Linked DNA regions of Homo sapiens: region 1 is linked to region 2. Evidence: fine-mapped expression QTL. A gene starts in region 2. The other region holds a variant in brackets. All regions are shown on one strand. Distances are between the middles of the regions. Region 1 overlaps ZNG1B (Zn regulated GTPase metalloprotein activator 1B). Region 2 holds the start of IL1RN (interleukin 1 receptor antagonist).

Region 1 (5,245 bases), 320 kb after region 2:
ATATGTCACCCTGTGACATAATTGCCTCCTTATTCACTGAATTCCCCTCCATTCCCCCCTTCCCTTAATTTTTTTTTTTTTTTTTTTTTTTTTTTTGAGACGGAGTCTCGCTCTGTCGCCCAGGCTGGAGTGCAGTGGCGGGATCTCGGCTCACTGCAAGCTCCGCCTGCCGGGTTCACGCCATTCTCCTGCCTCAGCCTCCCAAGTAGCTGGGACTACAGGCGCCCGCCACTACGCCCGGCTAATTTTTTGTATTTTTAGTAGAGACGGGGTTTCACCGTTTTAGCCGGGATGGTCTCGATCTCCTGACCTCGTGATCCGCCCGCCTCGGCCTCCCAAAGTGCTGGGATTACAGGCGTGAGCCACCGCGCCCGGCCCCCTTAATATTTCTAAGCTCTATGAAGGCAGAGACTATCTTGTTCACTTTTTCACCAAGGCTCAGCATAAATCTGTAACGTATTAGAAACCTTCGAATGAATGAGCTATGTCTTAAAGTGTTTTTTTTTTCATAATATGGTTAAAAAGCCCTAGTAAATCTTCTCTTAGAAGATTTCTTACATTCACCCTTTCCTTTCAGTTTTCACATCACTGCCCTGTGAAACACTCATGTTCAGGGCCTCTGTCTCAGGCTTGGACTGGTTTTAAGATTTTCCTCATTGCCCTAAGTCTCTCCCATTCTATACTTCATATTTTTGTGATGTTGAGCTTCCTAAAGTACTCTAAATATAAGCCTTCATCTCTTAAAAAGCTTTGAAAGGAATATGACCTAAAAGATATTAATACCCTAATACTCTGTAAAATCTTCCTAGTTATATACTAGAAAACTTAATGTATTTCAGAAGACATGTATAGCCTACATGTAAAAGTTTTTAGCAGCACTGTAATAGTAAAACACTGGAAACAAACCAAATGTCCAACAAAAAAAAAAGATAAAGAAATGATATAGTCATACAATTGAACTACAATACTATGCAGTTAGGATTTTCTTTTTTTCCTCTATGAATTTTAGTGTGTACGGTTCACAAGACTATTTTTTTTCTACTGGAGATTGACATATTGGGTTTTATATGCCACCTGCTGGATAAAGTTGGTATAGCTTTATGAATTTATCTTACTGAACATTCTGTCCATTGTTGACACTACCTGGCTCTATTCCCCATTTCATAAAAACTTTTATAGATTGTTTAAAGCATACTATAAGTAGCCATATAGTCAGCCTGAAGTTGCGTCTTGTTAATGTTGAAATAAAAGGTCATTATAAATAAAAGATTGTGTGTAAATTTTAGGGAAGGTTAGGCTAGGTTGAAGAAACTGTTTCAACTTGTAGGAGTGTTTGTAAATATTTATAAAATTTTATGTCTACATAAAGTATTTTGCAACAGGTTTCAAAGGATGCTTTAATCTTATCCTCTAGGATATTCTATACTAAAATAATATATGAAAAATAGCACGCAAATTCTCAAAAACGTTAGGATTCTTTATATGTTTTTTGTATCTTTAAAATTATTTTGAATTTTTTTATTTACAAAAAATATGTTTTATAGGTGCTGGGAAGACAACACTTCTGAACTATATTTTGACAGAGCAACATAGTAAAAGAGTAGCGGTCATTTTAAATGAATTTGGGGAAGGTAAGTAAAGTTCAATAAATGTCATGTTGCAAGATTTTGTGTGACTGTTTATTCCTCTGGTGAATTGCTATTCCATATTTAAAAATGAAAATGCAAGGTATTGTATTGATGTGGATAGCTTTAGAAAAGTTGGATTAATTTCTGTTAAGATTTATATGGGTTGAGATACTGAAATTAGTTTTAATAAAATTTTATTTTGTATAACTTTGGAATTCTTATTAACAGAATTAAACTACATTTTTACATGAAATAAATGACTCCAGAAGTAAAAATCTAGACATATGAAAAAACGTTTATTTTTTATTTTATTTTATTTTTTTTGAGATGGAGTCTCTCTCTGTCGCCAGGCTGGAGTGCAGTGGTGCAATCTCAGCTCACTGCCACCTCTGTCTCCTGGGTTAAAGTGATTCTCCTGCCTCAGCCTCCCGAGTAGCTGGGACTACAGGCGTGCGCCACCATGCCCAGATAATTTTTGTATTTTTAGTAGAGACAGGGTTTCACCATGTTGGCCAGGATGGTCTTGAGCTCCTGGCCTTGTGATCCACCTGCCTCGGCCTCCCAAAGTTGCTGGGATTACAGGCATGAGGCACCATGCCTGGCCAAAAAATGTTTTTTTTAGGAATTAGGAAGGCACTTTTGTATGGACTCTATTGCAACTCATGAAAAATACTTGAAAATGCTTCTGTTATTAGTTAACTTTGTTTAATGTTTATTATCTGCAATGCAGTTAAAACTCAATATTTTAAAAATAAAGGTAAACATATGGTCTTTATCCTCATGTATTTTAAGTTATCTGTGAAAATAAGTGTGCTTAACTTCTCAACTGAAATATTAAACTGTAGTCAAAAAAATAGCTCTAGACACAATACTTCTGTTATCTTTATAGAAGTTTTTCTTCATAAGTATGAATTGTAATCAAAGCTCACTTCTAGCCAAAAAACAATATCTATTAAA[T/C]GATTTCTTTTAAAATGTACTATTTTTTTTCAGTTGTAAAAAGTAAAAGAGCTAGGTTTTATGAACAGGATGGGAAGCCAGTTATATTCGATTTCTGGTTTTAATAAACTAAAGAGAAAAGTGCTTTTTAGGCAAAAATCCTGAGATTTCTAATAACAGACTGTTTTTTTATCATCTTATTAAATAACCTATTGCACACTGATTACATTTATTCTTACTATTTTCTTTATTTTTTCCTGGATCATTTTCGCAATTTTATTTTTCACAGCATTCTCAATACTTTTCTTCATGTTTCCTTAATGTTCTGTATATAGTCCGAATTCTGTAGCAACCTCTTTAGAAGCTCTTTATTAATACCTAGCTGAAATATAAAAAATACGTAAGTGTAAAACTACTCGATTTTATGGGAGCTCATTTGCTTAGTGGGCTTTTAGAACTTCACCGTTTGGTATATTTCTTTATTAGAGGAAAAGTAAAACATTTAAAATAATTCTTATAGATAACAAGCATTTCAAATATAGTTTATTCTTTCTTAAGTAAGTATTGCTAGGAAAATATGTGAATTTGACTAAAAGTTTAGGTTTTTTTTTTTTTTGAGATGGAGTCTCGCTGTGTTGCCCAGGCTGGAGTGCAGTGGCACAGTCTCGGGTCACTGCAACCTCCGCCTCCCGGGTTCACGCCATTCTCCTGCCTCAGCCGCCTGAGTAGCTGGGACTACAGGCGCCCGCTACCACACCTGGCTAATTTTTTGTAATTTTAGTAGAGATGAGGTTTCATTGTGTTAGCGAGGATGGTCTCGATCTCCTGACCTCGTGATCCGCCCGCCTTGGCCTCCCTGTAAGTTTAATTTTTAAATGAGCACATGGTACACTGGCCAAAAACCTTCCTCAAGATGAACTAGGGTTTTTACTCATTGGGAATATTCAGCAGTTTGTCTAACAGAAACAATTTAGAAGAAGAATGAAAAGAAAAAGATAGATAAGGCAGTCTCTTAAGAGGTTGAAGGGCATACAAAATCCAGTATATAAAACATACTAGTCTATTTAGAAAGTTTACCCTGGACAAGAAAAAAATGCCTTCAAGATAGCTACTTTATTAAGAAATGGGGGTGGCCAAGTAAGAGGCCTAAGGAGGAAGTAGGTATGTTTATCAGTTTAGGATGTGTCTTTTTCAGGGCTTAAGTCATCTTAAATAAAAGCTAACATAATGTAGTGTACTGTAATTTAGATATCGAGGCTGCATGAATAAAATGAAAGAATATAAGTTATAAAATGCAGTTTCTGCTTTAAGATCTCCATTATTGAGTTATCCTCATCTTTGTTTTTTGTTGGCTAATGGACATAAGCTAAAGAGTGCTGTTTGTTAATTATTCTAGGAAGTGCGCTGGAGAAATCCTTAGCTGTCAGCCAAGGTGGAGAGCTCTATGAAGAGTGGCTGGAACTTAGAAACGGTTGCCTCTGCTGTTCAGTGAAGTGAGGAATGTGTTTACTGTGTACATGGTTTACTAGAAATGTTTATTGATTATATTTCCAGCTTTAATTTTCTTGAGTAATTTAACTGAATTTACACAGTTTGCTTCATTGTATTTTCAAACAAATAGAAAATAAACTTATTAGGAAGCATTTTCTTAAAGTGTTTCTTGCTGTCTTTTCTATCTGCTCTAATGTTTTGGTCCTTTTATTGAGTTTTTATTGCTTTTGATGTCAGGGCTTATTTAATCTCTAGTGCATGAAAGTCTCATATGTAAAAAATGATTATTCTGAATTTAATCTGTCATTGGTCATATTTCTAAGTGTTCAACCTTATAAAAAAAATAAATGACTATCAAAAAAGAGAAAAACCTTACATTATGTTCTACTAGTTAAGTTTTCAAGGACAGTGTTCACTAGTCTACCATAGACCCTAGAAGAGTTACCCAACACATAGTAGCACTCAAATATTTGTTGAATGAATTATAAAAATGACTACTTGTACTGTTAATTTTGTGTATTCTAGTGAATTAAATCTCTTCGGCATCATTTACTCCCTTAGGTATTTGACTTTGTGTCAAATGTTTTGGCAAGGATAAAATTATAACAGACTTTCTTGAACAACCAAAATATAATCTATTAAGGATTTTCCTTCACTTTTGATAAAATAAGAAAAAAGGAAATTAAAACCTTGCATCCTAATGTAAAATAGAATTATATGGTGTTTAATATCAGTGTCCCTTTAGCTATTATATTAAACTACTATAGTTAATAAATTTTATCATTATTTTGTATGTTGGTTTTTAAAAATTTCATAAAGCTATAAAAAGATACTTGGTCAGATAAAGTTTCCTCTGCTTTTAATTTTAATAAAGTATTATTATGTATATGATTTCTTTTTACCTATTATATATATGCATCTATTGTTTTCTCACTGGTAAATATGGGACGGACATTTTGTTAGAAGGTTAGAAGTGAGTTAAATTTTCACATTCCTAAGGGTACTTTTGTCTTGGGTTGTTGAATATATTTTAAAGTGTTTATAATAATCACTTCAAAATATTTAGGTAATTAACTGTAAATGATGTTTTGGTATTCTCCAGGGACAATGGCCTTAGAGCTATTGAGAATTTGATGCAAAAGAAGGGGAAATTTGATTACATACTGTTAGAGACCACTGGATTGGCAGAC
Region 2 (5,245 bases):
TCCTGCCCCAGGGACCACCCCCACCCTCACCCTGTGCATGTCGACAAAGGACAGACTGGGCCACTTCTCAGGACACAGCGGGGAAATGACACAGAGCAGGGAGGTTCCAGGAGCCCCGAGCGTCTTTTCTCCAGGAGAATACTCTCTGAATTCAGACTGGGGTCAGAGAAACATTTACCCAGGAGCCGCAGTGTGGGTGGGGCTTTTTACTTGAAACGCTGTCTGAAGGCAGTGGCCAGGATGGAACTCTCCACCCTACCTTGGCAAGCCACTTCTCTTCTGCAATCTGTAAGGACATTGTTGAGAGAATTATGGTCTTCCAATTCCGGAGGGTTGAAGAAAGACAAATAGGAGAGAACCTATCATAGTCAGGTGCTAGCTGCCTTCTCTTTCAGAGAGTGTGAGAATAAAGTGATACACTTGATTATTAGCAAATACTTTGGAAATTTTAAACGCTAATATTCAACACACTCTGGAAGAGGCAAATAAGTAGACAGGTTCATATACATCATCTCCTTCAGCTAGTCCTCACAAAAACAAACAAATGAATAAACAAAATTCTTCTTTGGCCCTCATAGGAAGACACTGTTTCTTGAACGTGTTTCAAAAAGGATGGGTGACTCACTCAAGGTCACACTGTTTATGAGGACAGTACAGGAATACAGACATGCCATTTTGCCTGAAAAAATCCATCACCCAGGGAGGTGACACAATTTTGCAGAAATGTTCTATTTCCTCTGAAGGATACATTCTTTAAACCTTTGGGAAATTCATTCATAGTCTTCCTCCTTTGAAGGATTAACTCTCTGGACACAAAGTGTTTGATTCTGATTTGTTGGTTGGAAGATGTGTTGGTTGAGAGAAAGATTCTGATTTGTTGGTTGAAAATAGACTCATCAAGATCAACTGCTGTAGTAGTAAATATTTTGACATTTTGTCTGTATTCCTGTGCTGCCCTCACAAGCTGCATCACCTTGAGTGAGTCATTCATACTTTTTTGTTTGTTTTTGTTTTGGAGATGGAGTCTTACTCTGTTGCCTAGGCTGGAGTGCGGTGGCGTGATCTTGGCTCACTGCGACCTCCATCTCCTGGGTTCAAGTGATCCTCCTGCCTCAGCCTCCCGAGTAGCTGGGATTACAGGCACATGCCACCATCCCTGCTAATTTTTGCATTTTCAGTAGAGACGGAGTTTCACCATGTTGGTCAGGTTGGTCTTGAACTCCTGACCTCAGGTGATCCGCCCACCTCAGCCTCCCCAAGTGCTGGGATTACAGGTGTGAGCCACCGTGCCCAGCCCAGCCATCATTTTTGAAACACGTTTGAGAAATAGTGTCTTCCTTTGAGGGCCAAGGAGACATTTTTTTTGTTTATTTGTTTGTTTTTGTGAGGACTAGCTGAAGGGGGTGATGTATATTAACCTGCCTACTTATTTGCCTCTTCCCAGAGTGTGATGAATATTAGGGTTTAAAGTTTCTGAAGCATTTGTTAATAAAGCCCGGGGCTGGAGGTCAGAAGACCTGGATTTCTCTGCATACTTTTGCCATCAGCAAGCTGTGTGACCTTGGACAGATCCCTTTTTTGTCTAAATCTTTCTGAGTCTTCTTGAAAACAATGCCAGGTTGGGACAGGATGATTGCCAAGCTCCCGTCCAGCTCTAAAACACTGCAACGTATGCTTCTGCACCAGCACTGTCCATCCTGTAGATCATGCAGAAATTCTCTTCAACTTTTTCCTACCCATAAAATAGGAGCATGCTTACCTTTTTCCTAATGTTCCAGGCCCCGGGTCTAGAATATTGTAAGTAAGGAAGTTAATGTGTATCAGAGCCCATTATGGGCCAGAAGTTCTCCTCTTCCTTCCTACACCTGCTTCCTCCCTCCCTCCCTCCCTCTTTCCCTTCCTTCCTTCCATCCATTTGTGAAGAAGACATGATCACCCTCATTCTGAGAGTGAAGAGACAGAGGCTCAACTAATGAAATGATTTGTTCAAGGTCACACGGGTGGCACAAGGCAAGTGGCAGAGGTTGAATTTAGACCCATTCCTGTCCAAATGCTGAGTTTATGTCATCGTCCCGAGACCATAACTTTAAAGATGTAAGATAGTGGGAAAAGAGTTGATTTCAAAGCACCTCTCAGAAGGACTCACTTTACATCAGGGGTCAGCAGACTCAGGCCAAATCCGGTCCATTCCCCGCTTTTGCAAAGAAAGTTGTAGTGGAACACAGCTAGGCTTATTGATTTATGGATTGCCAACGTCCTTTTGTGAAACAGACAGCTGAGCTGAGTAATCGTGGCGCACAAAACCTAAAATATTTACTATCTCGTCCTTTACAGAATGTTTGCCAATCTATGGTCCGGAGTCCAAGGCTGTCCATTTTTCAAAGAACACAAAGTGACATGAGACTGTCCCATGTGCAGGGAGCCCTATCATTTTATTATGAAAAAACGGCCTTTCTGCTCAAATCTGTTTTTTAAAAAGTCAACAAACAGACTCTGGGTACCTGTCAGGAACAGTAGGGAGTTTGGTTTCCATTGTGCTCTTCTTCCCAGGAACTCAATGAAGGGGAAATAGAAATCTTAATTTTGGGGAAATTGCACAGGGGAAAAAGGGGAGGGAATCAGTTACAACACTCCATTGCGACACTTAGTGGGGTTGAAAGTGACAACAGCAAGGGTTTCTCTTTTTGGAAATGCGAGGAGGGTATTTCCGCTTCTCGCAGTGGGGCAGGGTGGCAGACGCCTAGCTTGGGTGAGTGACTATTTCTTTATAAACCACAACTCTGGGCCCGCAATGGCAGTCCACTGCCTTGCTGCAGTCACAGAATGGAAATCTGCAGAGGCCTCCGCAGTCACCTAATCACTCTCCTCCTCTTCCTGTTCCATTCAGAGACGATCTGCCGACCCTCTGGGAGAAAATCCAGCAAGATGCAAGCCTTCAGGTAAGGCTACCCCAAGGAGGAGAAGGTGAGGGTGGATCAGCTGGAGACTGGAAACATATCACAGCTGCCAGGGGCTGCCAGGCCCCAGAGGGCCTGAGAACTGGGTTTGGGCTGGAGAGGATGTCCATTATTCAAGAAAGAGGCTGTTACATGCATGGGCTTCAGGACTTGTGTTTCAAAATATCCCAGATGTGGATAGTGCGACCGGAGGGCTGTCTTACTTTCCCAGAGACTCAGGAACCCAGTGAGTAATAGATGCATGCCAAGGAGTGGGACTGCGATTCAGGCCTAGTTGAATGTGCTGACAGAGAAGCAGAGAGGGGCACCAGGGGCACAGCCCGAAGGCCCAGACTGATATGGGCAAGGCCTGTCTGTGCTGACATGTCGGAGGGTCCCACTCTCCAGGGACCTTGGTTTCCCCGTCTGTGACATCTGTGACATGAGAGTCACGATAACTCCTTGTGTGCCTTACAGGGTTGTTGTGAAAATTAAATGCACAGATAATAGCGTAACAGTATTCCGTGCATTGTAAAGAGCCTGAAAACCATTATGATTTGAAAATGGAATCGGCTTTGTGAGACCATCACTATTGTAAAGATGTGATGCTGATAGAAATGACAGGACTGCTTGTGCATGCCCTCTGCAGTGTGACATTCCAGCAGTGAAATCATGTTGGGGTGACTTCTCCCCCACTCTGACCTTTATGTTTGTCTGGGCCGAGGCTGCAAGTCGGGCTCTGTGGGTGTATGAGTGACAAGTCTCTCCCTTCCAGATATGGGGACTGTCTGCTTCCCTAGGTTGCCTCTCCCTGCTCTGATCAGCTAGAAGCTCCAGGAGATCCTCCTGGAGGCCCCAGCAGGTGATGTTTATCCCTCCAGACTGAGGCTAAATCTAGAAACTAGGATAATCACAAACAGGCCAATGCTGCCATATGCAAAGCACTTTGGTTTGCCTGGCCACCCCTCGTCGAGCATGTGGGCTCTTCAGAGCCACCTGATGAGGTGGGTACAGTTAGCCACACTTCACAGGTGAAGAGGTGAGGCACAGGTCCCAGGTCAGGCTGGCCAGAGCTCTGTTTATTACGTCTCACAGCTTTGAGTCCTGCTCTCAACCAGAGAGGCCCTTTACCAAGAAGAAAGGATTGGGACCCAGAATCAGGTCACTGGCTGAGGTAGAGAGGAAGCCGGGTTGTTCCCAAGGGTAGCTGCTCCTGCAGGACTCTGAGCAGGTCACCAGCTAATGGAGGAAAGGCTCTAGGGAAAGACCCTTCTGGTCTCAGACTCAGAGCGAGTTAGCTGCAAGGTGTTCCGTCTCTTGAAACTTCTACCTAGGTGCTATGGTAGCCACTAGTCTCAGGTGGCTATTTAAATTTATACTTAAATGAATGAAAATAGAAGAAAATTTAAAATCCAGACCCTTGGTCACACTATCCACATTTAAAGAGGTCAATAGCCACATGTGGTTAGTGGCCACCCTATTGGGCAGTGCAGCTACAGAACATTTTTGCATCCCAGAAAGTTCTTTTGGATGTTGCTGCTCTACAGCATGCTTTGCTGAAACAGAAGTGCCTTCCCTGGGAATCTCAGATGGGAAGCAAGTAAGGAGGGGAGTCAAATGTGGGCTCACTGCTCACCAGCTGTGAGGGTTGGGCCTGCCTCTTAACCATTGTCAGCCTCAGTCTTCTCATCCATGCATGCCGTGGGTATACTAAAATACTATACCCCTGGAAGAGCTGGATGCAAATTTGACAAGTTCTGGGGGACACAGGAAGGTGCCAAGCACAAGGCTGGGCACATGGTGGCTGTGCACTACAGCTGAGTCCTTTTCCTTTTCAGAATCTGGGATGTTAACCAGAAGACCTTCTATCTGAGGAACAACCAACTAGTTGCTGGATACTTGCAAGGACCAAATGTCAATTTAGAAGGTGAGTGGTTGCCAGGAAAGCCAATGTATGTGGGCATCACGTCACTTTGCCCGTCTGTCTGCAGCAGCATGGCCTGCCTGCACAAACCCTAGGTGCAATGTCCTAATCCTTGTTGGGTCTTTGTATTCAAGTTTGAAGCTGGGAGGGCCTGGCTACTGAAGGGCACATATGAGGGCAGCCTGAAGAGGGTGTGGAGAGGTAGAGTCTAGGTCAGAGGTCAGTGCCTATAGGCACAGTGGTCCCAGGGCCACAGCTGGGAAGGGCAAATACCAGAAGGCAAGGTTGACCATTCCCTTCCTCAAGTGCCTATTAAGGCTCCATGTTCCTATGTTGTTCAAACCCTAACTCAATCCCAAATTAATCCACCATGTATAAGGTTGAG

What was found. PIP is the estimated chance that this variant, and not a neighbour inherited with it, causes the effect. A credible set is the group of variants that fine-mapping cannot tell apart.
Region 1: its variant is the best candidate, but not a certain one, in a credible set for the expression of IL1RN in sun-exposed skin (GTEx, PIP 0.71).

Annotation. Positions count from the first base shown.
Region 1 is chr2:113,439,807-113,445,051 of GRCh38, forward strand. It overlaps ZNG1B (Zn regulated GTPase metalloprotein activator 1B), which reads left to right. Exons shown (of 15, transcript NM_172003.3): 2 at 1,545-1,631; 3 at 3,961-4,057; 4 at 5,158-5,245. Among named protein-coding and RNA genes, the nearest start is that of ZNG1B, 4.7 kb to the left of the region's middle. The variant T/C (reference allele first, on the strand shown) is at 2,586.
Region 2 is chr2:113,124,802-113,130,046 of GRCh38, forward strand. It overlaps IL1RN (interleukin 1 receptor antagonist), which reads left to right and starts at 2,797. Exons shown (of 4, transcript NM_173842.3): 1 at 2,797-2,939; 2 at 4,775-4,863. The coding sequence starts at 2,824.